Homo sapiens: one gene and its partners. The protein of the gene in region 1 interacts with the protein of each later gene in a pairwise test. Each region holds a gene or a part of one and is shown on either strand. Other genes may lie near its edges.

Evidence for each region.
Region 2: the proteins of XAF1 (region 1) and TRIM50 interact in binary tests that used the Homo sapiens proteins (3 or more experiments, as listed by UniProt).
Region 3: the proteins of XAF1 (region 1) and LRSAM1 interact in binary tests that used the Homo sapiens proteins (3 or more experiments, as listed by UniProt).
Region 4: the proteins of XAF1 (region 1) and TRIM54 interact in binary tests that used the Homo sapiens proteins (3 or more experiments, as listed by UniProt).

The regions. Positions count from the first base shown.
Region 1 is NC_000017.11:6,765,528-6,773,652, reverse strand, and holds part of XAF1 (XIAP-associated factor 1), read right to left. Parts: intron 6,302-8,125; exon of another isoform or gene 6,200-6,301; intron 3,011-6,199; coding exon 2,669-3,010; coding exon of another isoform or gene 2,612-2,668; exon of another isoform or gene 1,304-2,611; intron 541-1,303; coding exon 484-540; 3' UTR 1-483. UniProt on the Homo sapiens protein: Seems to function as a negative regulator of members of the IAP (inhibitor of apoptosis protein) family. Inhibits anti-caspase activity of BIRC4. Induces cleavage and inactivation of BIRC4 independent of caspase activation.
Region 2 is NC_000007.14:73,317,580-73,325,704, forward strand, and holds part of TRIM50 (E3 ubiquitin-protein ligase TRIM50), read right to left. Parts: intron 7,997-8,125; exon of another isoform or gene 7,886-7,996; intron 7,227-7,885; 5' UTR 7,209-7,226; coding exon 6,810-7,208; intron 2,664-6,809; coding exon 2,568-2,663; intron 1,496-2,567; exon of another isoform or gene 1,474-1,495; coding exon 1,243-1,473; intron 1,131-1,242; coding exon 1,108-1,130; intron 1-1,107. UniProt on the Homo sapiens protein: E3 ubiquitin-protein ligase that ubiquitinates Beclin-1/BECN1 in a 'Lys-63'-dependent manner enhancing its binding to ULK1. In turn, promotes starvation-induced autophagy activation.
Region 3 is NC_000009.12:127,489,510-127,496,509, reverse strand, and holds part of LRSAM1 (E3 ubiquitin-protein ligase LRSAM1), read right to left. Parts: coding exon 6,992-7,000; intron 5,296-6,991; coding exon 5,215-5,295; intron 3,709-5,214; coding exon 3,613-3,708; intron 1,191-3,612; coding exon 1,092-1,190; intron 547-1,091; coding exon 415-546; intron 1-414.
Region 4 is NC_000002.12:27,298,772-27,306,896, reverse strand, and holds part of TRIM54 (tripartite motif-containing protein 54), read right to left. Parts: intron 7,653-8,125; coding exon 7,481-7,652; intron 7,368-7,480; coding exon of another isoform or gene 7,242-7,367; intron 1,939-7,241; coding exon 1,843-1,938; intron 1,314-1,842; coding exon 1,080-1,313; intron 818-1,079; coding exon 795-817; intron 685-794; coding exon 560-684; intron 442-559; coding exon 356-441; 3' UTR 355-355; exon of another isoform or gene 329-354; intron 11-328; 3' UTR 1-10. UniProt on the Homo sapiens protein: May bind and stabilize microtubules during myotubes formation.

The DNA of each region.
Region 1 (8,125 bases):
GGGTTTTCTAGATATAGAATCATATCGTCTGCAAACAGAGATACTTCGACTTCCTTTCTTTTTGGTTGCCTTTTATTTCTTTCTCTTGCCTGATTGCTGTGGCGAGGACTTCCAGTACTATGTTGAATAGGACTGAAGTGCCTTGTTCTACTTCTCAAGAGTAATGCTCCAGCTTTTGCTCATTCAGTATGATGTTGGCTGTGGTTTTGTCATAGATGGCTCTTATTATTTTGAGGTATGTTCCTTCGACGCCTGGTTTGTTGAGGGTTTTTAACATGAAGTCAAGTTGAATTTTATCAAAAGCCTTTTCTGTATCTATTGAGATGATACGTGAGTTTTGTTTTTAGTTCTGCCAAACCTTTTCTTTTAAAGCCCAACGAATAAAACCCATCACCTTTCACAAGACCACCACAGCAAGTAGGCAGGAATGCCAGTGTTAAAAGTGAAATCTTTTGAATTTGTAGTACCTTTCCTTTTCCAAATCTAGCTGAAATTTCTCACTTGTTTTCCTTTTGATGAAGCTAACCACCGGCATTTCTCCTAAGAAATGGATATAAAAAAAGTTTGATATGGTTAAAGTAAGAAGTGCTAGCTCCTAGAATATCTCTGGATATTGCTGTCCCTTGTTACAGAGCATGAGCCCTGCCCAAAGACTGGAGTGTAATGGCATAGAAAAGGTCAGGAGCCCACTGAGCCAGAAGTATAGGAGGCTTGCGACAAAGTTTAACAGGGGCCTGTTGCTATCACTGGGTGGAGGGACAGATGGGAGAACACTCACACCATGGAATCTTAGGCAGCCATTAATAAAAATAAGCCACACTGTTTTGTTTGTAGGGATTTCCTTGGGTATTGCTGAATTTACATTAGGATGTAAAGAAATGTTGCTGGGCGTGGTGGCTCATGCCCTATAATTCCAGCACTTTGGGAGTCTGAAGCGGGTGGATCACCTGAGGTCAGGATTTCAAGACCAGCATGGACAACATGGTGAAACCCCATCTGTACTAAAATGCAAAAATTAGCTGGGTGTGGTGGCGGGTGCCTGTACTCCCAGCTACTCAGGAGGCTGAGGCAGGAGAATCGCTTGAACCCGGGAGGCAGAGATCGCAGTGAGCCGAGATCCCACCACTGCATTCCAGCCTGGGTGACAGAGCGAGACTCTGTCTCAAAAAAAAAAAAAAAAAAAAAAAGATGGCAGCTTTACTGGTTCAAAAAAAAAAAAGTGAAAAAATGTATATAACAGGACTCCAAATGTGTATGTTTGTATGGTGGTTATATAAGAAATTGCTAAATAAAATACAGGGTGTCCTGGTTAAATTTTAATTTTAGCAAAACAATCATTGCATGGAATATACCTACACTAAAAACAATTCTTTGTTTCTCTGAAATTCAAATTTGACTGAATGTCCTGTATTTTTATTTGCTAAATCTGGCGACTCTGTTATATAAGGATGGAGAAAACTGTGAAAGGAAATATACCAAATTGTGGGAGGCAAGGAAAAATGGCACTAGTAACACCCCCAGCAAATATGAAATGAACCCATTTTTGTAAAATTATATGCTTATGTGCATACATAGATGCACAAGGAAGTTAGAAAAAAAGGTTTTGGCATACTAAGTCTTTTGTAAGAAGCATGCATCATATACTAAGTGAAAAAGGCATGTGGCAGAGTAAAAAGTATAGTAAGATAATATGTGTGGAAAAAGAAACAAGTAAAACCCAGTATATGCTTGTTTAGGCTTGTATATGCAAAGGTAGAGCTTTGAAAAGATGCCCATAAGACTGTCCAAAGTGGTATCTCAGGGTATGGGGTTGGGGAATTAGGGTTAGCTTTGCTTTTATACTTCTTTATATGATATTATATCAACTAGCTCCAACAAAATCTAGTACTTATGTATTTTGAAAAAAAATAAATTTTTTAAGTAAGGCATTTAATCTGGAGCTTAAGAGCATAAACTTTGGAGCTATATACATGTGGACTCAGGCTGGATCCTGCCACCTTCTAATTGTATACTCCTTGGAAAGCTACTTCACCTTATCTGTAAAATGGAGATAAAATGCATGCCTATTGTTTATGATGAAGATTATAAAGAGCTCTGTATTGTAACTGGCACACAATGGTTAACAACCTCTAATGCCAGTTATTATTATTACTAGAAAATAACCTAGGACATAAAAATCATGATATTCAGGGAGATGCCTACAAACCCTGATCTTCTTGAAGCAAACCTTGATCTGCTGGAGGTAAGCCACCACCAACTGGCTTAGGATCTTGACCAAGACATCTCATCTCTGGGCCTCAGTGCCATATCTACACCATGAGAGAGATAGACTGGGTATCCTCTGATTCATTCATTTACTCAACAGTTTTGAAGCAGTTGCTCCAAATCAATCCCTGGCCTAGAAGCTGGAGACACAGAGAAGAGGGACCTGGCTCTACCTTCAAAGACCTGGCTTGAGTCAAAGGTGACTCAGTCTCTCGGAGGTGATGCAAATAAACCAGGTGGTAAGTGCTACGAGATAGTGCATTTGGGCACCCAGAGAAGTGGGAGTCAGAGAAAACGGCCTTTTCAGCCACAACATTTGTGAACATCTTTCAGGTCTTGGATTTTTTTAAGACACTGTGCGGATGGTTCCCAGAAAGGTAAGCAGAGAACAGAGGCTGAGTACCTGATGTTGATTTAGGATCGGCAGGGGAAGCAGGATGCCACACTGAGAACATCTCCTCAGAATGTCATAGGCTGCTTTATCTCCTCTAGGGGAGCTGGTCCTGGGCTTGGGCTCTGACATCAAAAGTGGATCCAAGGTTTTGTTTTTGCTTCTTGGTGCTTTCTTTGATGAACTTTCAGAATGAAGAGGAAATCTGTTTATACTTCTTGTCTTTGGACGAACATCTTTCTCCATCGTGGAAGTTTGATTTTCAGCAGCTTGACTTGGAAGAGATGAAGGAAGAATTTCTGGATTTCCAACAGGAAAGTGTTTCTTAAACTCTGAGTCTGGACAACATTTACCCTGCAATTGTGAATAATATATCAAATTTTAAAATGACTTCAGCTTTAATGGTCAGAAAATACAGTAGACTAGATAACACAAGAAATTCCCACTGTAAACACTTTTATATGGTGTATAAAATGTGACAGACATTCAATTTAATAGCTGGCTTTGCAGGAAAGAAAGAAAATTTTGCATTCCAGGAATGAAGGTCTGACTGGTTGCTATGGTTTGAATGTGTCTCCTCCAAAATTCAGGTGCTGCCAATGTGATGGTATTAAGAGGTGGGGCCTTCGGGGGTGATTAGATCATGAAAGGTCCTCCCTTTTTAATGAGATTAGGGTCCTTATAAAAGAGGATTCATGAAGTATTTGGCTACAGCCTTCTACTCTTTTGCTTTCTACCATGCTAGGAGGCAGCAAGAAGGCCCTCACCAGACACCAAATGGTGGTGCCTTGATCTTGAACTTCCCAGTCTTCAGAACTGTTCGAAATAAATTTGTGTTCTTTATTATTACTCTGTCTGTGGCATCCTGTTATAGCAGCACAAATGGACTGGTTAAGCACAGGAGTTGACACTGCTTATGGGAGATGTAGGGTCAACTTTGTAACTAGGGGCTTGGATGACAGGAAAGTCCCATCCACACAGGTGGGGATTTGGAAGTAAGACTCTATTGATCCTGCATAAAGCTGGAAACTTTAAAGGATAAATTATGGTGGGTAAGAGGAAAAGTATCAGCTAATGAGAAAAGGAAAGTGGCAAGGAAGCTTTTCTTTCTTGGGTCGGTATTTGAGTGTGGAGATGAAAACTTATGCCCCTGAAAACTCAAAATCACAGGTCCATGCCATTCCTGTGTGTGGGATTAGGATTTACTTTGGCCTCATGGTCTGGGAATCCCTGAGCAGAAGAATTAACATAAACATTGAGATGTCTGGCAGAAGCAATCACAAAATTCCTCTGGAGGGACAACAGCCTCAAAATAGGTCATAGAGGATCCTCATAGGTAGAGTCCCACCAGATAGAAACTCACAATCCAAAATTACAAACACACAAGGAAGCAATCCACCTTGAGTAAGAGTCACAGACACAAAAGTAGTCAGATTAGCCTCCAAGAAGTTCAGGTAATGCAACTATAGGATAGAGACTGTAAAATAAATTAATTAAAAATGATTAAATCTGGGAAAAGAATAACATCTCATGAAAAACAGAACAGGTAAATTTGAAATTTTCTAATTTGTAATTAACAAATAATAACTTTATATATTTATGGGGTACAATGTGATATTTTAATATATATATACATTGTGGGATGATTAAATCAAGTTAATTAACATATCAATCACTTCACATACCTATCTTTTTTTTGTAGTGAGAACAAAAATAGGCAAATTTGAAAGAAAGATAAATTGAACTTCTAGACATGAAAAATGCAGGTATTGAACCTAAATGGATGGGCTAAAAACAGAAAATTAGATTTGGCCAAGAAAGAATGAATGAACTTGGAGATAATTTCAGGAAATTACCCAGAATATAAGAGATAGAAATAGAGAAAATATGAAAGGTTAAGAGACATAAGGCGATTAAAAGAGAGAAATGAAAAAAAAGGAGAGTCATGAAAAAAAAGAGAGTCATGAAGCTAGAATGAGAATGCTTAATATACATGTGTTATGTTCCAGAAGGAGAGTTGAGAGAATGTGGGAGAGTTGGGGAATGTTGGGAATTCAAAGAGATAATAGATGAGAATTTTCAGGCCTGATTAGTGACATAAATCTTTATATTAAGGAAAGAGAAATCCTGAGCAGGAGAAAAGCAAACACATTTGAGTACATTGTTCTGAACAGAATGAATAAAAATAAAACTACTCTTAAACACGTTACAGGTAAAAGGCAAAGAGGATCTTGAAATCAACCAAATATAAAGATTACGTACAAAGGAATGGCAATTAGGCTGGAAGAAAATACATCAACAGCAATAACAGAAGTGGGATGGCAGTGGAATAATCTTCAAAATGATAAGAGAAAATAGCTGTTAATCTAGATTTTGATATCCAGCTAAACTATCATTCATGGATGCAAAAAACAAAAAGCTTATTTTCAGGCAACTAAAGATTTACTACTCAAGGTTCTTGGTGAAGAAGCTACTGAGATGTATTTCAGGAAGAGAGAAATCATACCCAGAAGGAAAGCTTAGGATCCAAGGAAGAATGTGAGTAAAGAGAAGGGTAAACTTGTGAGTATATCCAGCCGGGCACAGTAGCTCATGCCTGTAATCCTAGCACTTTGGGAGGCCGAGGTGGGCAGATTATGTGAGGTCAGGAGTTCAAGACCAGCTTGGCCAACATGGAAAAGCCCATCTCTACTAAAAATACAAAAATTAGCCAGACGTGGTGGCACACACCTGTAGTACCAGCTACTTGAGAGGCTGAGGCAGGAGAACTGCTTGAACCCAGGAGGCGAAGGCTGCAGTGAGCCAAGATCGTGCCACTGCACTCAAGCCCAGGCAACAGAGTGAGACTTTTGTCTCAAAAAAAAAAAGAAAGAAAGAAAGAAAAAAAGCAAAAACAAAAACATGTGAGTATATCTAAACAGGCATGAGTTACATAAATAACAACAATAATCAGTAAAGAGGGGTAGTATGAAAGCAAAATGAAACAAAATTCTGGCAGCATTTTCATGTAAGATAGTTACAGTGTTAACATGTTCTCAAATCTATATACTATTTGTAAGGAAAGTAGAGATAATGACTAACTTTAGACTTTATTAAGTCAAGTATTTATATTAAAATGTTAAGGGTAACTATTGAAATGATAGAAATAAATGTAAAATTGACGAATCAGTAGGAAAGAAGAAAGAGAATAAAGAAATCTTGCTCAATCCAATAGAATACAAGGGAGAAGCAAGCAGCAGCAGCAGCAGCAGCAGCAGCAGTAGTAATGAACAAGAGTGGTAAATGCAAGGCCCCAAAACGATGGGGGAAAATTATTGTTAACATCATTGAGAGTGATAAAGGCATTGTGATTAAGAAAATGACTGTATTTTTGAGATATTAAAGAATGATGGTGAAATAACAGGATATCTTGGATTTGCTTTAACATACTTTAGAAAAAAGAAAACAAACAAAGTATAGTTCAAGCCTGGAAAACTTTTGATTTCCACGTGTTAACAGCTATTTTCTCTTAGCACTTTGAAGATTATTCCACTGCATACCCACTTCTATTATTGCTGTCGATATATTTGCTTTCAGCCTAACTGCCATTCCTTTGCTTGTAATCTTCTTCGGCTGATTTCAAAGAAATCAACCTTTGCCTTTTACCTGTAATGTATCTAAGAGTAGATTTATTTTTATTCACCTTGTTTAGAACAACAACTGTTGTATCTGGGGAGTAAATACATGAATGTTTATTGTATTAACTTTCTACTGTCATATTTATTTGAAAGTTTTTGTAATCAATTTTATTTCTTTTATTTTTAGTGGACAAGTAATAATGATACATACTTATAGAATACAGAATGATTTTCTAATACATGTATACAGTGTGTAGTGGCCAAATCAGAATTGTAATAAGATTTTTAATAAACAGATTAAGATGGTCAATAGATTCTATAGCCACCCAAGCTTTCATTTTCAGACATATAAGGCCTAAAAAATTTGCCTCTCATGCTTTCTTTCTCAAGAAACTATTTGGGGATATGTTCTATCAAACAAGGAGTAACCTAAGAAAGAGAAAGATGAGACCTGAGATTTGGGAATCAGAACTCCAACCGTGGAGAGAGTGGAAGAAATTCCAGACCAACAGCTAATCATCAAGCCTGGGGCATAACATGCTCCCAAAATGAAATGGACAGACTATCTGATGTGTGTAGTTGTACTCAGGGGAATTTTCAGATCTGGTAGAGAATTTTAGGGATGATTTAGTGATAGGTACCTAGAAAGTGAAGCAAATGAAAAACCGAAGCAATTATTAAGTCCAGGTAAAACAAAAAGTTGTAGGAGAAAGAACACATAATCACAATTCATGTGGAAAACCATTTATAATGTTTACATGGTTATACTAATGTAATACTGAATATTTATTTAACCAGAATGAGTGAAATCAATACATTGGAAGGATGAAATGAAGAACTTTGGAGGTGTGTGTGTGGGATGGGTGGTATAAAAAAGTGAAATCTATATTCCTAAATCCTTATGAGTCAATAAGTAATATCTAAAACTGGAAAAAATATAAGAAGGTGCTTTAGACATATGAAGGTGATTACCAGAAGAAACAGCTAAAAGCAAAAGTAGAGTATTTGTGTCTGGGGAGTAGTTAGCATGAAGGGGACCAGTGGGGCTTATAGTTTTTCTGAGGTCGTGGGAGACAATTAACAAGGGCCATAATAAGTAAGTAAATTAGATAATATGTTAGAAGTTGGCAAATGCTATGGAAAAAATAATAGAAGAAGGTAAGGGGTTGGTAAATATGTGATGGAGAGGGAGTTGCAATTTTAAATAGGTTGTTGTGGTACATCTCCTTGAGAAGGTGCCATCTGGGCAAAGACTTGAGAGAAGTGAGAGAGTTAGCTCCTGGAGTAGGGTGGGGAAGGTGAGGAGGTAGCTTCCAGCCAGAGGCAGTAGCCAGTGAAAAGGCCCTAAGGCATGGTATGCTCAAGAAACAATCAGGAGGCCAGTGAGCTGAACAGGAGTAGTACATGAGATCAAAGAGGTGATGAGATAAGAAGGGAGGCAAAGATGACATAGATCTCTAAAGCCACTGTAGTTTTGAGTTTGCATAAAATGGGGCAAGAATCAGTACAGAGATCTGAACAGAGGAGCCAAACAATCTGACTTGTATTTTTAAGGGATCACGTTGACCTCTGTGATGAGAATAGACTGTAGGGGGCAAGGTGAGAAGTAGGAAGACCGTTTAGGAGACTGCTGCAGCATCTGGGCTAGAGAAGATGATGGTTCATACCAGGGTAGCAATGCGGAGGGAAAGAGAAGTCGAGAGTGAACCTGAGATTTTGGCCTGAACAACTGGAAAGATAGAGTTGCCATCAACTGAGATGGGCCAAGCTGTGGCAGAGAGGATTCCATTTCAGATGTGTTACATTTAAGATGTCTATCAAGCATTCAAGTGAAGATGCAGTAAATAGTAAT
Region 2 (8,125 bases), on another chromosome or scaffold:
ACTCCTGACCTGAAGGCATCCTTCTGCCTCAGCCTTCCAAAATGCTGGGATTACAGGTGTAAGCCGCCATGCCCAGCCTCTGTCCCTTCATTTAAACCCATGTCTTCTGACCAAATTGTCTCTAAGACTAAAAGAAATGTGAGAAACACGGAGTCTCCCATAAACAGGGAGTGAGGAAGGCTTGGGAACTGCACGTGTTCGTTTGTTGGGTCTAGAACATGGATCCACTCTCTTCCCACAATCTGCAGAGCAAGTTTCAGGCAGGGCTGATACTGCCTGCTGCGCAAGGGTGAGGAGGGTAAGCAAGGGATGCCCGGTGCTCCTGGATGTTGCTTCTGGCCATTTCCCACCTCTCCCAGCTCCGACTCCTGGTGATATCCTGCCTTACACCCAGCCACCCTGAACTCATAACCAGAGTCCACATGCCACTCCCCCTTTTACAGGACCGTTTCCTCGGCTTGCCTGGCAAACTCAGGTCCTGGGTCCTTCTCAGCCATCAGGCCTGTGCCCCTCTGCCAGGTCCCCCAGACACCTGCTCCTCCTCTAGCATTCTGTTTTGTTTTCTGAGACAGGGTCTCGCTCCGTCACCCAGGCTGGATCATGCAGTAGCATGGTCACGACTCACTGCAGCATCAAACTTCTGGGCTCAAGCAATCCTCCCGCCTCAGCCTCATGAGTAGCGGGGACTATAGGCACATGACACCATGCCCAACTAATTTTTTTATTTTTGTATTTTTTGTAGAGATGGGGTCTTACTACATTGGCCAGGCTGGTCTCGAACTCCTGGCCTCAAGCAATCCTCCTGCCTTGGCTTCCCAAAGTACTGGGATTGCAGGCATGAGCTACCCTCCTCTAGTATTTCTGTAGCTTGAGTGAACTTCTGCTGTTCTAGGTACCCACAGTTCACCATCTGCCTCCCCACCCATCTACGAGACCCTTGAAGGCAGGGACATGACTTTCCTCTGTTTTTCCCAGGCTCAGTTATAGAGCCAGCTGTGGGCAGCTGCTTGGGAGGCGCTGGTTAAACCGAATGGAGGAACCAGTGGAGCTGAGATGCCCGTGCCCGCAGCCACCAGACCCTGGCTGAGCTCTCTCCAAGGTTATTACCTGGAGGCCATGGAGTGGAACTTCTGGAAGGCAAGAGAGAGGGAGGTTAAGGCTAGAAGGTGGGAAGCTAGGGCACTGTTGGGAAGGGGAAGGCCCTGGCGGGTATGGGGATGGGACGCCTCCCTGTCCACTCACCCGGATGAACTTGTGGTGGTCCTCATTGCCGAACTGTTCCAGCACACACTCGGCTTGGGCCAGCCGCTCCCGGGTTCCCTGGGCCTGCTCCAGCTGCATGTCCAGGGAGGCCACCAGGCCACGGGTGTGACCCCCTATCCCCTCCAGGCAGCGGGCCTTCTCCTCATCCACCAGGTGGTGCAGCTCCTGGAACTCGCGGCGGATCACCCAGCTGAAGACATCCGACTCATTCTGGGACAGGGAGGGCTGGTCACTGCAGAGTCACAGCCGAGCTGCCAGGCTCTGTCTGGCTGGCCTCGGTGTCCCCAGGGCCTTCCTGACCGGGTTGGTCCTGGGACCTGAGTCTCAGGGGAGGCTGCATGGCCTGGCGCCGGGCAGGGAGTTCACCCCATGCATGGGGAGCCCTGGCGGTGGCCGTGGGGAGGGTGACCCCAGCTCCCGTTTCAAATGGAGAGGCTCTGTTTTGGCCTGTTTTAATTTTTTTTTTTAAGAGACAGGGTCTCACTCTGTTGCCCAGGCTGGAGCACAGTGGCATGATCATAGCTCACTGTAGCCTTGACCTCCCAGCCTCAAGCAATCCTCCCGCCTCAGCCTCCCGAGTTGCTGGGATTACAGATGCACGCCACCACACCCCACTTTGCCTATTTCAGCTATTAAATGTGCATATCCCAGAGTTCCACAACTGAAGGAAAGCAGGAAGGCCCTAGGCGAGCAGGCTTTGCTGTGAGGGAGCCAGAACTCCCTGCAGAACCCTGAGCTCCGCCTCCACCAGGCAGGGCTGGTACCGCCTGCCGCGCAAGGGTGAGGAGGGTAAATGAGGGAGGCTGAGTGCTCCTGGATCTTGCCCGGCTCCTGTTTCTGTTTCACAGCCACCTCCAGGGCCGGGGCACTATGGCTCCCAGCCCCATGTGCCTCTCACTTCGGGAGATCAGCCAGGGCCCAGGGCTGCCAGCCTCTCCACGCCTGAGCACCCAGGTACTGGGAGGGCACCATGACAGGCTGGCAAGGTCAAGCAGACACAGGTGGCACAGGGGCGGAGGAGTCATGCCCATGCTTTGAGCTGTTTACCCCCTGAGACTCAAGTCCTGGGTTATCTCAGTCTCAAGGACACAGAGGGCAAAAGCCAACTTGGAGCCAGTCCTAACGACAACTGGGTTGAATTCCCCTGAGAGGATTTGCGCTTTCCCCACCCCGCCCTGGGAATGCTTTGAGTTCTGGCTTTATATGGAAGGCATGGTTTTCTGTAAAGGACCAATGAGAACTGAGTTCTACAGGAAAGTGAAGGTGGCCGGTCCCAGGCAGGGGCAGAGGGAAGGGGCACTCACGACGATTCGGGTCCGGTTGTTCACCAGTTTGGCGATGAGCTCATCCACCTTTTTCTGCTCCTGCTTCAGCTCAGAGATGAGGGCTGCGAGCTCCTCCTGGAGGCAACAGGCCATGGCCCCATGAGCAGCTGATCCCTCCCCTTCTCAGCTCCTTGGATCACCTTCTTGGGAGTATCCCAATGGCCACAAGCACTCCCAGGGAAACCAGGGCGGGAACCAGAGCCACCCAGGTACCCTTGAGTCCAAAACAGGTTAAATTGTTCGAGAATAGTCTGGGCGCAGAAGCTCACGCCTGTAATTCCAGCACTTTGGGAGACTGAGGTGGGACTTCACTTGAGGTCAGGAGTTCGAGACTAGCCTGGCCAACATAGTGAAACCCCATTTCTATTAAAAATACAAAAATTAGCCAGGCGTGGTGGCATACACCTGTAGTCCCAGCTACTTGGGAGGCTAAGGCACGAGAATCGCTTGAATCTGGGAGGTGGAGGTTGCAGTGAGCCAAGATCATGCCACTGCACTCCAGCCTGGGTGACACAGTGAGACTCTGTCTCAAAAAAATAAAAATAAAAAATAAGATAAATTAATTCAAGAATATTCTAGGCTGGGCGCAGTGGCTCACGCCTGTACTCCCAGCATTTTGGGAGGCCGAGGCGAGTGGATCACCTGAGGTCAGGAATTCGAGACCAGCCTCAACATGGAGAAACCCTGTCTCTACTAAAAATACAAAATTAGCCAGGCGTGGTGGTGCATGCCTGTAATCCCAGCTACTCGGGAGGCTGAGGCAGGAGAATTGCTTGAACCTGGGAGGCAGAGGTTGTAGTGAGCCAAGATCGCGCCATTGCACTCCAGCCTGGGCAACAAGAGTGAAACTCCGTCTCAAAAAAAAAAAAAAGGAATATTCTAGGCTGGGCACAATGGCTCGTGCCTGTAATCCCAGCATTTTAGGAGGCCAAGGTGGGAGAATCACTTGAGGATAGGAGTTTGAGACCAGCCTGGGCAACACAGTGAGATCCCATCTCTAATTTTTTTTTAAAGAATATTCTGCATTGACAGCAGGAACTTCCCAGGCATAAGAGGGTCTCAATGTCACCCCTCTGCATGACATGGAGAGAGTCACTAAACGTTACAGCTACCAGAAGTCACCATGTGATGCTGGCACTTCCTGGATTGAATGCTGCCTGTAGGGGACCCATCAGGTGAACTCTGTGGTCACCAGCAGATCCAGAATTAGTGGGTATTTAATCAGGAGCCATCACAAAAAGGCCGGCGCCAGGTGAGGCTAATTCTAGGGCCAGTGGTGCTCACACGGGCCTGGGTTAAACCTGGTGAATCCCCACACCCATAAACACCTGAATCCATTCCTGGTGGGCTTGGACACAGCACGGATTTGCGACCTCCCCAAGCTGACATAAATGCACTTCTCCTGGACTGCCCGGGCCCCAAACCTGACCTAGCCTTGGGGGTGCCAACCGGGACCCCTGGACCACCATCTACTGCACGATTTGACCAGAGCCCCCGTCGGTTTGTACCCATGCAATATACAGAATTTTTGGCTTGGATCGTGCCCAAGCACCAGAGAGCTGCAAGGGGCTTTCAGGAAGGGAGTTGCGTAAAGAATCAAGCACTTGCTGGCATAAACGGACAGAGTCCTTGCTCTGGAGAACGAGGCATCAGAATATTTCACAGCGGCCCAAGAACGACATTCCAATGTCACTCTCCCCAGGCAGACAGACGGGACTCATTCCTTCCCCGTGAGAGGAACTAAGTTATGCAAATCAATGCACCCATCAATCGAGCATCTCAAAATCTCAATAAACAGGAGGCAACGGGAACACCTAAAAGAGGGCAATAAAGGAGTGCAATTTAGTTGTATTCTGTGTTGCAACAGAGAAGAGCCTCGGGATCATCAAACCCCAAATCTGGCCGGGTACAGTGGCTCACACCTGGAATCCCAACTCTTTGGGAGGCTGACGCGGGTGGATCACGAGGTCAGGAGATCGAGACCATCCTGGCTAACACGGTGAAACCCCGCCTCTACTAAAAATACAAAAAATTAGCCGGGCATGGTGGTGGGCGCCTGTAGTCCCAGCTACTTGGGAGGCTGAGGCAGGAGAATGGCGTGAACCCGGGAGGCGGAGCTTGCAGTGAGCCGAGATCGCACCACTGCGCTCCAGCCTGGGCGACAGAGCGAGACTCTGTCTCAACAACAACAACAACAAAATTAAGCCCAAATCTAAAACAGGGACCCAAGCTGGGCTGCTGGATCCTAACCACAAAGGACAGATAAGCTCCCAGCCTGTTTCCCTCCCTCCTTCCCATTAACTAATAAAACATAAACTCGGCTTCCTCACCTGCAGTCAGCTTCCACCTTCCATACTCCCCTAAACCTGCTCTTGCCAAGATAATCAGTTCTTACTGCTACATCTAACACTTTTCAGTCCTCAGAGACATTTCACACACGTGATCTCCTTCAGTCTCTGTCTCTCTGATTTCCGGGAGGCCACACTCAGCTGGTGTTCCCGCTCTGAGGATTCTTTCTATCCCTTTTTTCAGGGCTCTCTCTCAATCCAGATTTTAAGCCTGGTACCCCTTGGGGTCATCATCAGTGTCTTCCCTTATCACTATGTAGACTCTCCTGGGTTGGTCTTCTCCACCAAAGGGGACTTCAGTGACCACCAGGAGGAAGGACCCTCCACACCTCTCGCCCTGAGCCCCACCGCTGTCCTGGTCTGCACACCCCTCGACCCGACTGCACATATCCAGGCACCTCCGGCTCCACCTGCCCACGCCGGATCCTCCCCTGCGATCATTTCCTCTGTGCAAGGGGGAATCACAGAGCTGGAGTCAACCTTCCCGTCCCTCACCCTCCTTGCCACACACAGTTGTCAGGGTTTTTTTCTGTTTGAAATTTGTCTTTGGTCTGCCCCAGGCCTTTGTCCCAGTTCCCATCGACTTAGGTCCTGGCACCTTCATCTCTCACTGTCCTTTTGCCTCACCCTCAAAGCTCCCCTCTGCCAGAGAGATCTGAGCATTTCATCACTGGCTTAAAACCCTCCAGCCTCCGCCTTGCTCCCTCATCCTGTGAATAAACTCCAAATCCCTTCCCGGGTCACACTGGCCTCTCCATGCCCCAGCCGCAGCTTACCTCGCTGGCCCTATCTCACCCCCACCGATGTTCCCTCCAGCCTTATGCTGGGATTACAGGAGTGGCCACTGTGCCTGGCCAACAAGGCTAATTTTGAAACTTTTGTAGAGGCAGGGTCTCACTATGTTGCCCAGGCTGGTCTCAAACTCCTGGACTCAAGTGATCCACCCACCTCGGCCTCCCAAAGTGCTGTTATTATAGGCATAAGCCACCCAGTCACGTGTTTTATAACAGGTGTTTTATATATATAACAGCCAGCCAGGTATTATTATTACTCGTCTTAAAGAATGATCTGCTAGGTTTGGTGATGGCCTATAAAGGCAGGAATTCACTGATTCAGCATTTTGGACATTTACAATGTGCCAGGCATGGCTCCAGGCACTGAAATACACCAGGGGACAAAATGAAGTCCCCACCCTCATGCACCATAGAGTGCAAACAGGGGAGTGTCCAGACACAAACAAGGGGCCTAGGGCAGTGGTGCATGCCTATAATTCCAGCACTTTGGGAGGCCCAGGCAGGAGGATCATTGGAGGCCAAGGAGTTCAACACCAGCCTGGGCAACATAACAAGACCCCATTTCTACAAAATATGAAAAATGAGCTGGGCATGGTGGTGTGCACCTGTAGCCCCAGCTGCTCGGGAGGCTGAGGTGGGAGGATTGCTTCAGCCTAGGAGTTGGAGGCTGCAGTGAGCCATGATCACACCACTGCACTCCAGCCTGGGCAACAGAGTGAGACGCTGTCTCCAAAAAGAAAGAAAAAAAAGAAAGGAGAGAGGGAGAGGGAGAGGAAGAGGGAAGAGGGAAGAGGGAAGGAGAAGGAAGAAAAGAAAAAGGAACAAACCAGAACTGCAAATAAAAAAACAGGAAGGGGTGAGCACGTGACACCAGGGAGCTCCCATCCTGTTCGTGTGGCTTCAATCCCCGGCACCTGGGTTGAGCTGCAGCTCAAACGCTAAGGAATGAATGCGCCAGGGCACAGCTGCAGGGAAATCGAGGATAGCTGGATCCTTTTGGTGCCAGGTGATGGCACCAGAGAGCACAGGATCTGGTCCCCGCGGGCCTCTCCAGCCGCCCCTGCACCCTCACTCCCCACCTTCATGCGGCTGTAGACGGTGGAGACGGGCGTGACCGGGTGGTGTTGGTGGGAGCCCAGCAGACCGCAGAGGCCACAGATGAGCTCCTGGTCCTTCTCGCAGAAAAGGCTGAGCGGGTTCCGGTGGTGCACGCAGACCTTGGGCTCCGGGTCCCCAGGGAGCCTCAGGGCTTCGATCACCCTGGCCAGGGAGACGTTGGGCAGGGAGCTGCTGCCGTCCACCGCCTGCCGGCACACGGGGCAGCGCAGCTCGGCATCCAGGTGGCAGGACAGGGAAACCAGGCAGCCCTTGCAGTAAGAGTGGCCACACTGCAGCATCAGGGGCTCCTTGAAGACCTCCAGGCAGATGGGACACTGAAGCCGGTCCTCCAGCTCTGGCAGGCTCACCTGCCAAGCCATCCACACTCACTGCCCGGGCTGAAACACAGGCATCCGACCTCAGTCCTGTCCCCTCCCCTCCCCCTGTCCAGCACTCATCCACCACCCTCAACCCTAAGGAGCACCAGAATTTTAGAGGAAACACTTTGAGTCCTGGATCCCAGTCCTAACCCACATGACCTTGGGCCCCAGTTTCCGCAGCTGTAAAACAAAAGACTGCAGTGAAAAAAACTGGTCCCTTGAAGATATGTGTGTGTGTGTGTGTGTGTGTGTGTGTGTGTGTGTGTCTACATTTTTTACTCAAATTTGGAGACAAGCATGAAAGGGGCCATCTGCAGGGTCATTTGCAGTGACACTAATAATGCAAGGTCCAGCCCCAGCATGCATCCGGACCTAGAACTGAACAGCAAAACCTAGGCAAGCTCCCCACCTTCTAGATCAGTTCCCAAACTTTCGGGAAACTGTTGAAAGCATAGGTGTAATAGAGATTCTAGAGGCCCACCTTCAAAGGATCTTCTTCAGGGGGTCTCCAGTGAGACCCAGAACTCTACACTTATAGGTGACACTCCCAGGTAATTCTAGAGAGCCTGGAACCTACAAGGCCTCTACCCTGATCTCCCACCTGCTCCCCTATGAAAGCTTGTCAATGAGACAGAAGCAGCACCAGCAGCCCCCGGGGGAGCCCGACATTGGAATACCTGGCTTCTCACAATCCGCTGGGCCTCCCACTACAGCCTCAAGCCAGCATCACTGGCTTTCCTTCTTCCCAGCAGGGAACAGCAGGCACAGAGTCAGAAGTGGGAAATGCAGCTGGACGCCTGCACCACTGCCTGGTCTCTGCCCCTTCTCTCCTCCCCTTTCCCAGCAACACCCCTGTGTCCCCAAGGTCACCAGAATCAGGTGGAAACTGGGTTACATCACGGGACTGGGGAGGCAGC
Region 3 (7,000 bases), on another chromosome or scaffold:
TGTTTTGAAGAATAAGTGGATTAATGTGCTGTAAAGAGCTCAGCTTGTGCCCAGAAAGGAACAGGGGCTCAGGCAGTGCTGTGGCCACGACAGTTTGTGACACCATGAGGCAGGGCAGAGGCTGGATCAGATAAGCCCCAAGGGCCTGTCTTGTCCCTCCAGTCTGAAGATCCAGTCTGATCAGGTCAGCAGGACCCACCTCCCCAGGATTTCCCAGTGAGACAGTGTGCAGGGCACACACAGGCGGCTGGGGCAGATGGGCAGGTGTTCTGGCCATCTGGAAGCAAGGTGGCCCTGGGCCATTAGGTAAGGACAGGCCTCAACGAGGACTACACAAGGAGCAGATCAACCCCCGGCTGGTCAGGACAGCGGCCTTGCGTGCCCCTCCCCTCCATGCAGACGGCTGCTGCCCACCTTGGCCAGGTCCCCTGGGCTCATTTGGCTCAGCAGGTCCAGTGAGAGGCGGTGGTGCGCAAAGATGGGCAGGTAGTGCTCAGCCGACAGCTCCTCCAGGAGGGCCACCAGCTGGCGCTCCATCCCCTCTTCCTGCAAGACAGAAACGTGTACCATGAGCAGGAAGGAAGAAAAGAACCCACTGTTTACAACAGGAAATGAAGGGTTTGAATATTTATAACATAATACATAGAATGTACTCGGGATTTTTCCTACAAAAACTCATAGGTAGGCACACAGAGATAGATAGATAGATAGGCCCAGGGGTTCACTGCCGCTCTGTCTGCAAACCTGAAAATAGTAAGCAACTTGAACATCCACCAAGAGGGGGCTGTTTCAACTGCCTCTCTGTCCCCGCAGGTGCTGGACAGACAGTGGCTCCCGGCACAGGCTTTGCTCTACTGTGGGCTCAGTGGTCTCTGCCCTGCACAGCAGTGACCAGTGCCTTGTCGTCCCCCTCACCAGAATGAACACTCCCTTACTCTCGCTTCTGTCTCCACTGGGGCTTGGCACAGGATCTGGCATGCTAGAGTCACCAGAAAAGTAACAAGAGGCAGAGCATGGTGGAGGCACCACAGGCGCCTCTGGGAGGAGGTCCCCAGGGCTCCCTGGCCGGGACAGGCACCAGCAGTCCTTACTTGCAGCTTCAAGGACAAGGGCTTCTGGTTCAAAAGCCGTTGATACTGAATCAGCCAGTAATTTTCCTGCCTGGTTTCACTTTTGGCTTCTAACTCCGTCTGCCAGGAATGAAGCAGGCAATGTTAGTCACAAAATGGTAATAAAACCTGTAATAACAATGATGGTTGCCAGGCGCGGTGGCTCATGCCTGTAATCCCAGCACTTTGGGGGGCCAAGGTGGGCAGATCACCTGAGGTCGGGAGTTCAAGACCAGCCTGACCAACATGGAGAAACCCCCCACCTCTACTAAAAATACAAAACTAGCCAGGCATGGCGGCACATGCCTGTAATCCCAGCTACTCGAGAGGCTGAGGCAGGAGAATCTCTTGAGCCCGGGAGGCAGAGGTTGCAGTGAGCTGAGATCGCGCCACTGCACTCCAGCCTGGGCAACAAGAGCGAAACTCCGTCTCAAAAAAACAAAACAAAACAAAACCAAAATGATGGTTATGAACCATGCTCCTCTGAGCGGGTGGACAGCACTTGGTACTTTTATTTTATTTTTGAGATGGACTCTTGCTCTGTCACCCAGGCTGGAGTGCCCGAGTAGCTGGGACTACAGGTGTGTGCCACCATGCCCGGCTAATTTTTATATTTTTAGTACAGATGGGGTTTTCACCACGTTGGCCAGGCTGGTCTCAAACTCCTGACCTCAAGTGATCTGCCCACCTCGGCCTCCCAAAGTGCTGGGATTACAGGCGTGAGCCACTGCACCCAGCCTGAATGTGATTCTTTTATTCTGCCATTCGATAACTCTTCGTTGAGTACTGTTCTAGGTGCTGGGAATACAGCAGTGAACAAACAATGCTGATAACAGCCACGGTGACAACAGGCGTAGCTGACATGTTCACAGTGCCATGTGCCAGACCATGCTGTGCACCTAACGATGCCATCATTAATTCTCACAACTCCGGGAAGGAGATTCTACCTCCCAGGTGAGGGAGCTGAGGTTCAGGGTGATGAGTAACCTGCCCAGGGTGGGGCCAGGAATTGGACCCAGGCCTGTCTTGCTCCAGAGCCCGTGCTCAGAACAACGGAGCTGTTCAGTGAGGGCTGGCATGACATGGGGAGTGGGATCAACACAGGCGTTTCTCAATCCCTGCTGGGCCTGACTGCCCTTTGCGGGCCCCTCCTGGACCTGGCCACGCCCACTGCTCCCTTCCGTCGTTGGCCCTCCCGGGCTGCAGCCCCTCTCTTCCAGCGCCCAGGAGCCGGATGGGCTGTGTTCTGCTGGGGCGGTGCTTCCTCCTTTGGTGGTGACCCCCAAGGCCTACAAGGGCAGGGGCACCAGCCATAGTACCTGGCTGCTAAGGCACAGCGCCAAGGCACCATCTGCAAAGTAACCTGATGCGTAGGAGATGGCAGTAGGGCACCGTGAGGAACAGGCAGCTTCCTCTGATGGGCACAGGCACCACTTGGCTTGTTCAGGGCTCCAGAAGCAGCTGGTCTCTCTCTTCTAAACCTGCACAGGACCCGGCCTAGGACGCAGCTCAGAGGGCATCTGGTGCATTCACGGGGACACAGGAACGACTCGGTCTTTTCCACCCCAGATGGTGAGCCTGGCCTCTGTCCTCATTGCTTGGGTGCCCTCTGGGTCTAGAGGAGACACTCTCAAGGGGGCCTCTGCCACGCTGAAAATGTGCCAGTGTCAAACCCATCAGGGGACAGGGACAGCTGGGCCACTCCTGCCAAAAGCTTATCAAACGGCCTGCCCTGGACATAGTGAGTCCTGTCTGGAGTGAATACTCATGGCTGTTCCCGAATACTCGACTACAAAGGCATTCGGAGAGCATTGCCTAGAAAAGTTTAAAAACCAGAAGTAATCCACATACTCAACAATAGGGGCCACGGACAGCCTTGAGAAAGGACGTCAAGGAATAGTTTAATGACTTGAAAAGAATGTGCGGAAACAGGCTGCTCGAAAAGGGTATGCAGCATGCCACGTTTAAAAGGCGCATACACGAACAGCTATAAAGGTGCATCACAATGTTTGGAAAATATGCATCAAAACCGCAGGAGAGGCTAGGCGCGGTGGCTCATGCCTGTAAAACCAGCACTTTCGGAGGCCAAGGCAGACAGATCGTTTGAGCCCGGGAGTTGGAGACCAGCCTGGGCAACATAGCGAAACCCCATCTCTACAAAAAATAAAAAAATTTGCCAGGCATGGTGGCACATGCCTGTAGTCCCAGCTACTCGGGAAGCTGAGGTGGGAGGATCGCTTGAGCCCAGGAAGTCAAGGCTGCAGTGAGCTGAGATTGCGCCACTGCACTCCAGCCTGGGCGACAGAGTGAGACCCTGTCTCAAACAAACAAATAAAAAATGGCAGGAGATAACGCTTGGAAATGCAATTATTTTCCTTTGTACTTTCCAGTTTTTCTTTGATGAATAACTCTTACTTGAATAACAGGTGTTTCTAAAAATGGCAAGTCTGTTAAAGAAAAGCAAATGCCTGTGTGATGCTGAGCACAGAAGCCAAACACATACCAGGATTTCCCGGAGCTCTTCCTCTCGCTGCTGCTTCTCTTTGAGCAGCTGCTGGAGCAGGGAGCTGAGGGCCCAGCGCTGCTCCGAGATCATCTCCTGCGAACAAGACCACACCCCGCACCACCGTGAGCTGGCGGCAGCGCAGGAGTCCCGCAGTGGCAGGATGGAGAAGGGCCTGGCCTCCCGCTCACTCGGTTCTCTGCCCAATGCCTCCAGGCTGCGTTGGGGGACAAAGCTAAGAGGCCCTTCTGCCCCCTTACCCTAAGCCCGCATCTCTCTTCCTTGTGGGGTTAAGTCAGGCATGGGATCCTGGTGACTGATGACAATGGGATGGTAAGAAACATCAAACAAAAGAAATGACAAGCCACAGGTGCCTGCCTTTGGTCTCCCAGACAACAGAGCACATGGGCAGAAGCAAATGGCGGGGAGCAGTGTGGGGCCCCACACAAATGGAGGTGCGTGCAAACCAGAGCCTGGGGTCCCTGCTTCACTCCTGCGCCTGCTCTTGGAAACCCCATGGGGGCCCCAACAGCCAGAGCCCTGCCACACTTGTGGGCAGGGACTAGGGCACCCGCCAGGCATGATGACCGCAGCTTCTCTGAGAGCAGTCCCAGTCCCCTCATCTCTGGAGATCATTTCAAGGCTCACAAAGGGCTTTCCCTTGCTAGCTCAGCCTTCTCCGATGGCCTGATGGCACAGGCTGGGCCTGGAGGACCGCTGCCATCTTATGGAGTAGGGGAAGAAGGCCTGGAGGGGCAGAGGCCTGTCTAAGGGCACACAGCACACCTGCGGTGCACCTGAGACCAGGGATCCAGATCCCAGACCCTTCACTGCACTGAGGAGTCCATGGGATGGCTTGAGACTTCTCCACTGAGAACAGACACAGGGACAGTGACAGACCGAAGGCTCTGCTCAAACTCCTGGCACAGGCACATGTCCTCACACACCATCCCATCCAGCCCTCCGTCTGCAGCTGGAGAGGCTGAGGTTCAGAGAGGGGAAAGGGCTGCCTCTCCTCCCCCACCTGCCAAAGTTGCACAGCAGGGCTGTGCTGGGCCACACCCGGCTCCCAGGCATCCAGTCCAGGACGCCAGCTGCCAGTCCCTGCTGCCCTCTCATCTGTGTGCGCAGGACTCCCGGGCTGGAGCCCCAGAGATGCTGCCTGCAGGGAGTTACACAGATGCGGCTGGGCCCTCTCCTCCAGACAACCCGGGACACCCAAAAGCTCCAGCCCTGGAGGATGTGTGCCTGGGGGCCTAAAGCACGGCCTACAGAGAGAGACAGGAGCTCAGCGGCGGGCCCGCACCCAGCACAGGAGACACAGTGATGGAGATGAGCAGGGGAGCCTTGGCAATGAAACCCTCCTTCCTCTGACCCTCCTGCCTCGCAACAGGCTGACCACCTCTAACCTTGGCCTGCGCTGGGCCTTCTGGGGCTGGGGGGTGTCCTCTGGTGTCACAGCCACAGAGGAGCTCTGCCCTCTGTCTGCTGGGGAAGCCCTTGACTCCCAGGGGCTGGTGAGCAGCTGCCAGAGGCTGGGAGGGAGCACCAGGTGGGGGTCTCACCACGTGAAGGAGGGCAGGGGCAGGGAGCCCTACATACCTGGAGTGACTCTGTGTCCAGGGACTTCCTCTTTAACTCCAGCTGTGTCAGCTGCAATAACTCAGTTTCTATTAACTTAATCTAAACAGAAGACGAGACAGGGTTTTTTTTTACTCACATTAACCACAGTTCAGTTTTGTGCTGCTACTCTCTGGTGACCAAGTGGGTCTAAGAAGCCTTTCTGGGGAGGCTGGGGAGGCTCTGGAATGAGGGGAACCTGCGGGCCTGGGAACCTCGTCAAGGGGCTTGAACAAGAATTCGTTCCTTCATGGCCTCGCGTTCCTGGGGCATGGACGTGCTTGTTGTGGCCAAAATTGTTTACCAAGAGGCCAGCACAGGATCTCTCCTAGAGTGGGATCAGGATAAAGGCTTGTGCAATGGAGAGGGGGCTTTCCTTGGGGATTCAGGCCAGAGTAAAGCACAGACAGAGCTATCACCCAGTCTCCTGCTGGTCAAGTTCTCTTGTCCCTCGCATCGCTGTTGCAGGGGAGAGCAGAGGGTAGTGGAAGTGACTGAGTAACAGTGGTAGTAGTAGCTGGTATGTCTTGAGCACCTACTATGTGCTAGGCCTGTGCTGCACACTTGATGTATCATATTTCATCAATTCTCTGGCTGCTAGGAGGTATTATTGCCTCCATTTTATAGACAAGAAAACTGAGGCTCAGAGAGGTTCTCACTTGCTCAAGGACACAGAGCAGGTAAGGGAGAGATCCCTTTCTCTGGGATGCCTCAGCTCAGGGTTTAAGGGCAATAGCTGACCTGGTCAAAACCATCTGCAGTGAGAATGTGGGGGGCCCTCACAGGCTCTCCAGGGTGTGTCTAGGGGATTTTAGCCCTGGGCAGGGGTGGGGGTCAGACCCCATAGCCAGTACTTCTCTATCCTGTGCCCATGACCCTGTGACCCTCATCCCTAAGTCCCTATGACACCACCAACCCCTGGTCAGAGGAATGAGCTTCATGTCCGGCAATGTGGAATTGAAATTAAAGAGGGAAATTAAAAAGGTAAATTGGTCCAAAAAAAGAAAGAAAGAAAGAAAGAAAGAAAGAAAAATAGAGAAAGAAAAAAACCATGCAAAAATGCAAAATTCAGTGTGCTGAACATGATGCAGGAGTACTCCCATAGCCTGACGCTCACTTCAGCCCCAGCCCCAGCCCCACTCCACAGGCGGTGACCACCAAGCCGTGTAGGTGGGCTTGCCCAAGGCTTGAAGGTCAGCAGCCGGCCTGCGGGGGGTGGGGGGTATCTTGTCACATGAGGGAGGGTCTAAGAGGAGGACCGCCTCCTCCTGGGCCGAGGTCACTTTTCAGCAGGCGTCAGGACCACCGTGGCTCACAGCTCCCCCTGCCCTCTTCTGGGGGAAATACTATATGCCCCTGAGACGCCTCTGTCTGTCTGAGCTGTAGGAGCGCTGGGGCCTGCGCCGGCTGCTTTTCCCAGTGGGGAAGTCCTGCCTGGAGCAGGGACAGCAGAGGCAGCTGGAGCAGTCAAAGCCACACATCAGCACCAGCCTCCCTGGCCCAGGCGTGGTGGAGACCCGCCTCGCTGGCAAGACCCTCGCCAGACCCCGGAATAGGAGGTCTCTAGACACCCTCCCAGCAGCCCCGACACAAGGCTGGGAGCAAAGGGAGGTTCTGAGGGCAAGGCCTCGACCTCTTGTTGGGCTAGCAAGCCAAGGAGCTGGGGTTCAAACCTCAACTGCTGCGACCTGCCGCCCTGGAGGGCCACTCTGCAAGTCTCTGAGAGAGCAGGTCCAGGGACCCCAGCCCCAGCGCTCACCTGGCTCCT
Region 4 (8,125 bases), on another chromosome or scaffold:
CGGCGCAGGCCTGTGCCCGGGAAAGAAGGCTCGGTGGGCGGGTGCTGCGAAGGCACGAGGCAGCTCGAGCCCCGCTCACTCCGTCCCCCGCCACGTGGGTTTCTCCTCTACTCAGCCTGCCTTGCCTGCCCTCCCAGCACCCCAGAGGAACAGCGGGTGAGGAGGAAAGTGTACTTTTCCGCCCTAGGGGGCGCGCCTTTGTGGCTCCGGGGTTGGGTTGCACCGAGGAGTGGGGGCTCCACGCTACCCGCAGGGAGGGCAATCACTGGGGGAGGGGACGCGAGCACACCAGCCAGGCCCCACCCCAAGCCCCTCAGGCCGCTCTCACCTTAAGGCCCATCGGGCGGCTCTCACCTTAAGGCCCATCCGGCCGCTCTTCCTCCGGCCCCGCGCTGCCCTCCTCTCCGTCTGGGGCCACCTCCTCTTCCTCCCCGGAAGCGCCTGAGCCCAAGGAAGGCCTGGTGAGGTGGAGTCCCTGCCTTTACGGCCATCGTGCCCGCCGCACCCCCCACACAGAGGGTCCGAACCCGTCTCAGCGGCCCTCGGCCACCTCCTTCACCTGGCTGGAAGTCGATGGTCCGCAGCATTTCGGCCACGTGCTCCACCCTTACGGTGAATTGCTCCATGCTCTCATAGCCTGGCTCCGGCCGCCCTGCCAGCTCCACCTTCGACATGGCCCCGACCCTGCAGTGGCCACACGGACTCAGCTGGCAATGCCCCAGCACTCTCAAGCCCCACCCCAGCCAGTGGAGCAGTGCAGCCCCCTCCTTTCCCTTCCCGCTATGCCTACTCACTTATTGATCAGCTCCTTGGCCTGCTGCAGGGAAGAAAAGGAGGGTGAGAGTAAGCACTGGGCCAACCTGGGCAAAGTCCCATTTCTGAATCTCACCACAGTCCTGCGGGGTAGGTGGGAAGGCACGTCCCAATTCGTTAAGCAGAAAACGAACTCAGAGGGGGTGACTTGCCCAAGGTCGTAGGGGCAAGCAGGTGCAAGAGACAAGACTTGAACCCGGGACTCCAGGTACCAAGGCCCTGACTCCAGCCACTGTGCAGCGCTGCCACCCTCCCCTAGAGCCCACCTGGAGATACAGCGCCATTTGTGGCTCTTCCATGGACTGGATGGCAGACTCCACCAGCTTAGAGGAGGCCTCCAGGTGGTCGCCATACTGACGGATGAGGCCGCGGACGCGCTGCAGCTTCTCCTCTTGCTCCCGGGCCAGCGCCTGCAGCAGCTCACCCTTGCGCTCCTCCAGCACTGCGCACAGGCTCTCAAACCTCTGGTTTAACAACTGCTTCTGCCTCCGGCTATTGTCCTAAAAGATGGGGAGCAAGGATGAGGGAAGGCGTGGCTGAGACCCGGTGGCTGGGAAAGCACAGGGTACTCACAGAGAACCAACACAGAAAGTGACCCATCCGTAGTGACACTGTGAGTTAGTGGCTGAGCCAGAACCCAGCCCAGATCTTTTCCATAATAAAAACACAATGCTTTAAAGTAGCTTCACTGATTGCTGTCTATATCCCTAGCCCTGGTTTTTATTTGCATTATTCCATTTAATTCTCAAAAAGAACCCATGAGGTAGCTGGTGTATCATTATCATCATCACTGTTTTATGAGGTTAAACAAAACCAAAGCACAGAGAAGTTAAATAACTGGATTAAAGTTTTGCGGCAAAGCTGGAATGCACACCCAGCAGCCTGGCAAAAGCACCTCCCACCACTCCCAGGACCCCAGAAACTTTCAGACCAGTTTGGCGAGAGGTCAGAGAGGAGCAGTTCTCTTGGGAGCCCGGGGTCCGCAGGCTAGCCAGTTGCTGTTCCTCCCTCCCTCCAGCCCAGGCTCACCTCGATAGTCTGGCACACCTCCTCCATCTGTGTGATCACTGCTTGCACGCGGTCATTGCCTGCCACCAGCATCGCGATGCCATCGCTGAGCTCACTCTGATACACACACAGGTCAGCACTCAGAGCTGGGACCTGGCCTAGAGCTACACCCCTCACCCCAGCCAGGGTTGCCTAGGAGAGGGCTGGCCCTTCCACCTCACCCCCCATAAGGGCATCTACAGCAATCTAGAAGGCTTGAACCATCAAGAGGTACGGAAGCACATTCTAGTGATTCTGGAAGGAGGTGGAGAGAAGCCCTCCACCACTAAGTGGGGAAGGAACAGACAGTCTCCAAACATCCACCAGATACCAGACACTGGGCTAGATACTTTATCTGTAGATTCATTTCTTGCATCGATTCTGAGAAAGTCTTCAAGATTATCCATTGGCATAATATTGCCTCTTCTCTATTCTCTTTATCCTCTCATTCTGGGAATCTGATTAGACCTGTTAGACCTTCTCACTCTCAGCCTTCTCATCATCTCCCAGAACTGCACGTTCTGTTTTTCTTTCAGTCCTCTCATACTGGTCACTAGTTCTGTTTTCAGACAAATCTATCATTCAATTCATTCGTTGATTTTTTTTTAAATTTTTTTTGAGACGGAGTCTTGCTCTGTCACCCAGGCTGGTCTCGAACACCAGGCCTTGTCCTCCTGCCTCAGCCTCCCTAGTCACTGGGTTTACAGGTTCCAGCCACCATGCCCAGCCATCTGTTGAATGTTTTATATCTATCTATCTATATATATATATATATCTGTATATCTATATCTATCTATCTATCTATCTATCTATATATATATATTTGAGACAAGGTCTCACTCTGTCACCAAGGCTGGAGTGCAGTGGCTCGATCTCAGTTCACTGCAGCCTCGACCTTCCAGGCTCAGGTGATCCTCCCACCTCAGCCTCCCAGGTAGCTGGGACTACAGGCGCATGACACCACGTCCGGCTAATTTTTTATATTTTTTTGTAGACGGGGTTTCAACATTTCCCCAGGTTGGTCTCCAACTCCTGGACTCAAGTGATCCTCCCACCTCAGCCTCCCAAAGTGTCGGGATTACCGGCGTGAGCCACCACACCCAGCTACATGGTTGGTTTTTGATATTCTATTATTGTTTGGTTTTTAAAATTTTTCATCTTTTTTTAAAAAGCATTTGATTTATAGTGACTTCCAATTATTTAATAATTCCAATATCTCAGTTGCTTTTGTGGGGGGTCCTAAATCTGTATTTTTTGTTTCTGCTGACTTCACTCATGGATTACGTTTCTCTGTGCACCTTCAATTGTGATCTAATATTTTATTGATATTAATTAATCTAGGGAATACCTACGGGCCTAAATTGTGCATATTTTCCTCTAGGCAGTATTTGCATTTGCCTCTGTTGAAAGCCAGGTGGCGCAATTTACTGCTTTAGCTCCTAGGATCCTAGTTTAACCTACGGTCTCCGGAAACTTTTTTTTTTTTTTAGACGGAGTCTCTCCCTGTTGCCCAGGCTGGAGTGCAATGACGTGATCTCAGCTCACTGCAACCTCCGCCTCCTGGGTTCAAGCGATTCTCCTGCCTCAGCTTCCCGAGTAGCTGGGATTACAGGGCCTGCAACCACGCCCGGCTAATTTTTTGTATCTTTAGTAGAGACGGGATTTCACCATGTTGGCCAGGTCTCAAACTCCTGACCTAGTGATCCGCCCGCCTCGGCCTCCCAAAGTGTTGAGATTACAGGCGTGAGCCACTGCGCCCAGCCGGGTCTCTGGAATCTTAGCTGCAGGTACCCCTCCTTTTAGGGGTTTGGAGGAATAGTCTGGTCTCTCTAGCTCAGTGACATTGCCAGCACTGGTCCTCTGCGAAATGCTGCCTTTTCTGTGCTTGCCACTCAGGGTTCTGCTTTCAGCTCCGCCTTTTCTCTTCGCCCCTCCCCACCCCCACTGATTTCCTTTGCTTCTATGTACCAAGCAATATAATTTGAAAATTCTGTTTTACACAGAATCTAGTTGTGTGATAGAGAGGACCCTGCAAGTATCTCACCCACCATACTGAAGTCTCTGCTTTCATCCATTATCGAATTTTATCCTTATAGCTACTTTCACAAGTAGGCATTTTCACCCTAATTTTACACATGAGGAAAGTGAGGGCCACAAAGGTCCAGTAACATACCTAGGTGACACACCAAGTCAAGCACAGAGCTAGGACTTTGACTCCAATCTGCTTGACTTTTATTTTATTTTCGAGACAGAGTTTCACTCTTTTTGCCCAGGCTGGAGTGCAATGGCGCAATCTCAGCTCACTGTAACCTCCGCCTCTGGAGTTCAAGTGATTCTCCTGCCTCAGCCTCCCGAGTAGCTGGGATTACAGGCGACTGCCACCATGCCCAGCTAATTTTGTATTTTTAGTAGAGAAAGGGTTTCACCATGTTGGCCAGGCTGGTTTGGAACTCCTGACCTTAAGTGATCCGTTCACCTTGGCCTCCCAAAGTGCTGGGATTACAGGCATGAGCCACCACGCCTGGCTTAATCTGCTTGATTTTATTTTTATTTACTTATTTTATTTTAGGTATTATTATTATTATTATTTTTAGACGGAGTCTCGCTCTGTCGCCCAGGCTGGAGTGCAGCGGCCCGATCTTGGCTCACTGCAAGCTCTGCCTCCCAGGTAAACAATTCTGCCTCAGCCTCCCGAGTAGCTGGGACTACAGGCGCCTGCCACCACGCCCGGCTAAGTTTTTTGTATTTTTAGTAGAAATGGGGTTTCACCGTGTTAGCCAGGATGGTCCCGATCTCCTGACCTCGTGATCCACCCACTTTGGCCTCCCAAAGTACTGGGATTACAGGCGTGAGCCACCGCGCCTGGCCTATTTATTTATTTTTGGATGGAGTTTTGCTCTTGTTGCCCAGGCTGGAATGCAATAGCGCAATCTCAGCTCACTGCAACCTCCGCCTCCCGGGTTCAAGCGATTCTCCTGTCTCAGCCTCCCAAGTAGCTGGGATTACAGGCACATGCCACCACACCTGGCTAATTTTTGTATTTTTAGTAGAGACAGGGTTTCATTATATTGGTCAGGCTGGTCTCGAACTCCTGATCGCAGGTGATCCGCCCGCCTCGGCCTCTTAAAGTGCTATGATTGCAGGTGTGAGCCACCGCCCGGCCTGCTTGACTTTAAAACTAAGTGGAGTAACGCTTTGGGAGGCTGAGGTGTCAGGGGCGTTTGAACCAGAGCAACTCCATCTTGAATAGGGGCTGGGTAAAATGAGGCTGAGACCTACTGGGCTGCATTCCCAGATGGTTAAGGCATTCTAAGTCATAGGATGAGATAGGAGGTCGGCACAAGATACAGGTCATACAGACCTTGCTGATAAAACAGGTTGCAGTAAGGAAGCCGGCCAAAACCCACCAAAACCAAGACGCCAATGAGAGCGACCTCTGGTGGTCCTCACTGCTACACTCCCATTAGCTCCATGACAGTTTACTAATGCCATGGCAATGTCAGCAAGTGACCGTATATGTTCTAAAAAGGGAAGGCATGAATAATCTACCTCTTGTTTAGCATATCATCAAGAAATAACCACAAAAATGGGCAACCAGGCTGGACCCGGTAGCTCACACCTATAATCCCAGCACTTTGGGAGGCCAAGGAGAGTGGATCACCTGAGTTCAGGAGTTTGAGACCAGCCTGGCCAACATGGTGAAACCCTGTCTCTATTAAAAATACAAAAATTAGCCAGTCATGGTGGCGGATGCCTGTAATCCCAGATACTTGGGAGGCTGTGGCAGGAGAATCGCTTGAATCTGGGAGGCGGAGGTTGTAGTGAGCTGAGATCGCGCCATTGCATTCCAGCCTGGGCGACAAGAGCGAAACTCCATCTAAAAAAAAAAAAAAAAAAAAAAGAGGGCAACCAGCAGCCCTAGGGGCTGCTCTGTCTATGGAGTGGCCATTGTCTTATTCCTTTACTTTCCTAATAAACTTGCTTTCACTTTACTCTATGGACTAGCCCTGAATTCTTTCTTGCGCGAGATCCAATAACCCTGTCTTGGGGTCTGTGTCAAGACCTCTTTCCTCTAACAGAGGCAGGAGGATGGCTTGAGCCCAGGAATTCAAAACAAGCCTGGGCAACACAGTGAGATCTTGTCTCTTTTTAATATTGTATGTTTGTTTTTGAGACAAGGTCTCACTCTATCACCCAGGCTGGAGTGCCGTGGTGCAATCATGGCTCACTGCAGCCTCAACCTCCCGGGCTCAAGTGATCCTCCCACCTCAGCCTCCCGAGTAGCTGGGACTACAGGCATGCCACCATGCCCAGCTAATTTTTTGTAGAGACAAGGGTCTCACTATGTTACACAGCTCAGGCTGGTCTCAAATTCCTGGACTCAAACAATCCCCCTGCCTCGCTCTTCTAAAGTATTATTAGTACTACTACTACTAATAAATATTATTATTAGTACTACTACTACTAATAAATATTATTATTAGTAGTATCCTCCCAAAGGATTACAAGTGTGAGTCACTGTGCCCTGCCTGAGACCCTGTCTCTATGTAAAAATAAAAAATTAGGTTCGGGCGCAGGGGCTCACGCCTGTAATCCCAGCATTTGGGAGGCCAAGGTGGGTGGATCACCTGAGGTCAGGAGTTCCAGACCAGCCTGGCCAACATGGTGAAGCCCCGTCTCTACTAAAAATACAAAAAATTAGCTGGACATGGTGGTAGGCGCCTATAATCCCAGCTACTCTGGAGGCTGAGGCAGGAGAATTGCTTGAACCTGCGAGGCAGAGGTTACAGTGAGCCGAGATCGTGCCATTGCACTCCAGCCTGGGCAACAAGAGCAAAACTCCATCTCAAAATAAATAAATAAACAAATAAATAAATAAATAAAATAAAATAATTAGCTGGTCATGGTGGCACATGCCTGTAGTTCCAGCTACTTGGGAGATTGAGGTGGTAGGGATCACTTGAGCCCAGGAGTTCAAGGCTGCTGCAGTGAATCACAATCATACCAGTGCATTCCAGCCTGCGCGACAGAGATCCCCACATCTCTTAAAAAATAAATAAATGGAGCTGGGCGCAGTGGCTCACACCTGTAATTCCAGCACTCTGGGAGGCCAAGGTGGACGGATCACATGAGGCCAGGAGTCAAAAAAAAACCAAAAAACAAAAAAGCTGGGTGTGGTGGCACATGCCTGTAATCCCAGGTACTTGGAAGGCTGAGGCATAAGAACAGCTTGAACCCGGGAGGCTGAGGTTGCTGTGAGCCAAGACTGCACCACTGCACTCCAGCCTGGGCGACAGAGCGAGACTCCATCTCAAAATATGATAGATAGATAGATAGATAGATAGATAGATAGATAGATAGGGCTGAGTGCGGTGGCTCACATCTATAATCTTAGTGTTCTGCGAGGCTAAGATGGGAGGATCACTTGAGCTCGGGAGATCAAGGCTGCAGTAAGTTGTGTTTGTGCCACTGCACTCCAGCCTGGGCAACAGAGTGAGATCCTGTTTCTAAATAAATAAAGAAATAAGTAAACAAAAGATAAGTGGAGTAAGAGGCTGACACTGAGACCCTGTCCTAAGCCCCCATCTCTCACATATCTACTCCCTCCCCTGTTTGATACCTTCTGGCGTTTGTAAATGGTGGGCAGTGGGGCCACCTCACAGTCCTTGTGGGCACCGAAGACCTTGCAGAGAGAGCAGGTGGGCACCTCACAGCTCAGGCAGTAAATATTGATCTTCTCTTCTTCATGCTCCTCGCACATGAGGTGCTGCTCAGCCTTGGAGTGCAGCGGCCTAGAGAGGAGTGGGCAGGGGGAGGTGGACCTTAAGCATGAAGGGTCCTAGGAATACCTTCTCTTCAGCCTCCACCAACTGCCACCACCTTCTCCGCCCCTGCAGCTAGTGCTGTGGCTGAACTGGTGAGTACTTCCACAGAGCTCTGAATTTGGGGAACAGAAGGAGCTAAGAGATAGAGGAGGCCTGGATCCGAGAACAGTCTGTATTACAAGGGGGCAGGGAAGTCCCACAGGACAGGAAGTCTTGGAGGGTTAGCGAGGATCTTGCTGGTGGACTGCCAGCCTCTCCCAGGAGGAGAGGGTAGGAGTGAAGTACTGGCTAGGGAATCAGAGACTGCCCTCTCTGGGAGGCCTGAGGCAAGTCCCTCTCCGGATCCAGTCCTATGGTCTCTAGACAGAACAGGCAGGTTGACCGTTTCAATCTCTCCCTTTTGGCTCTGATGGGTTCCTTGGCTGTGTCCCAAGCCCTGT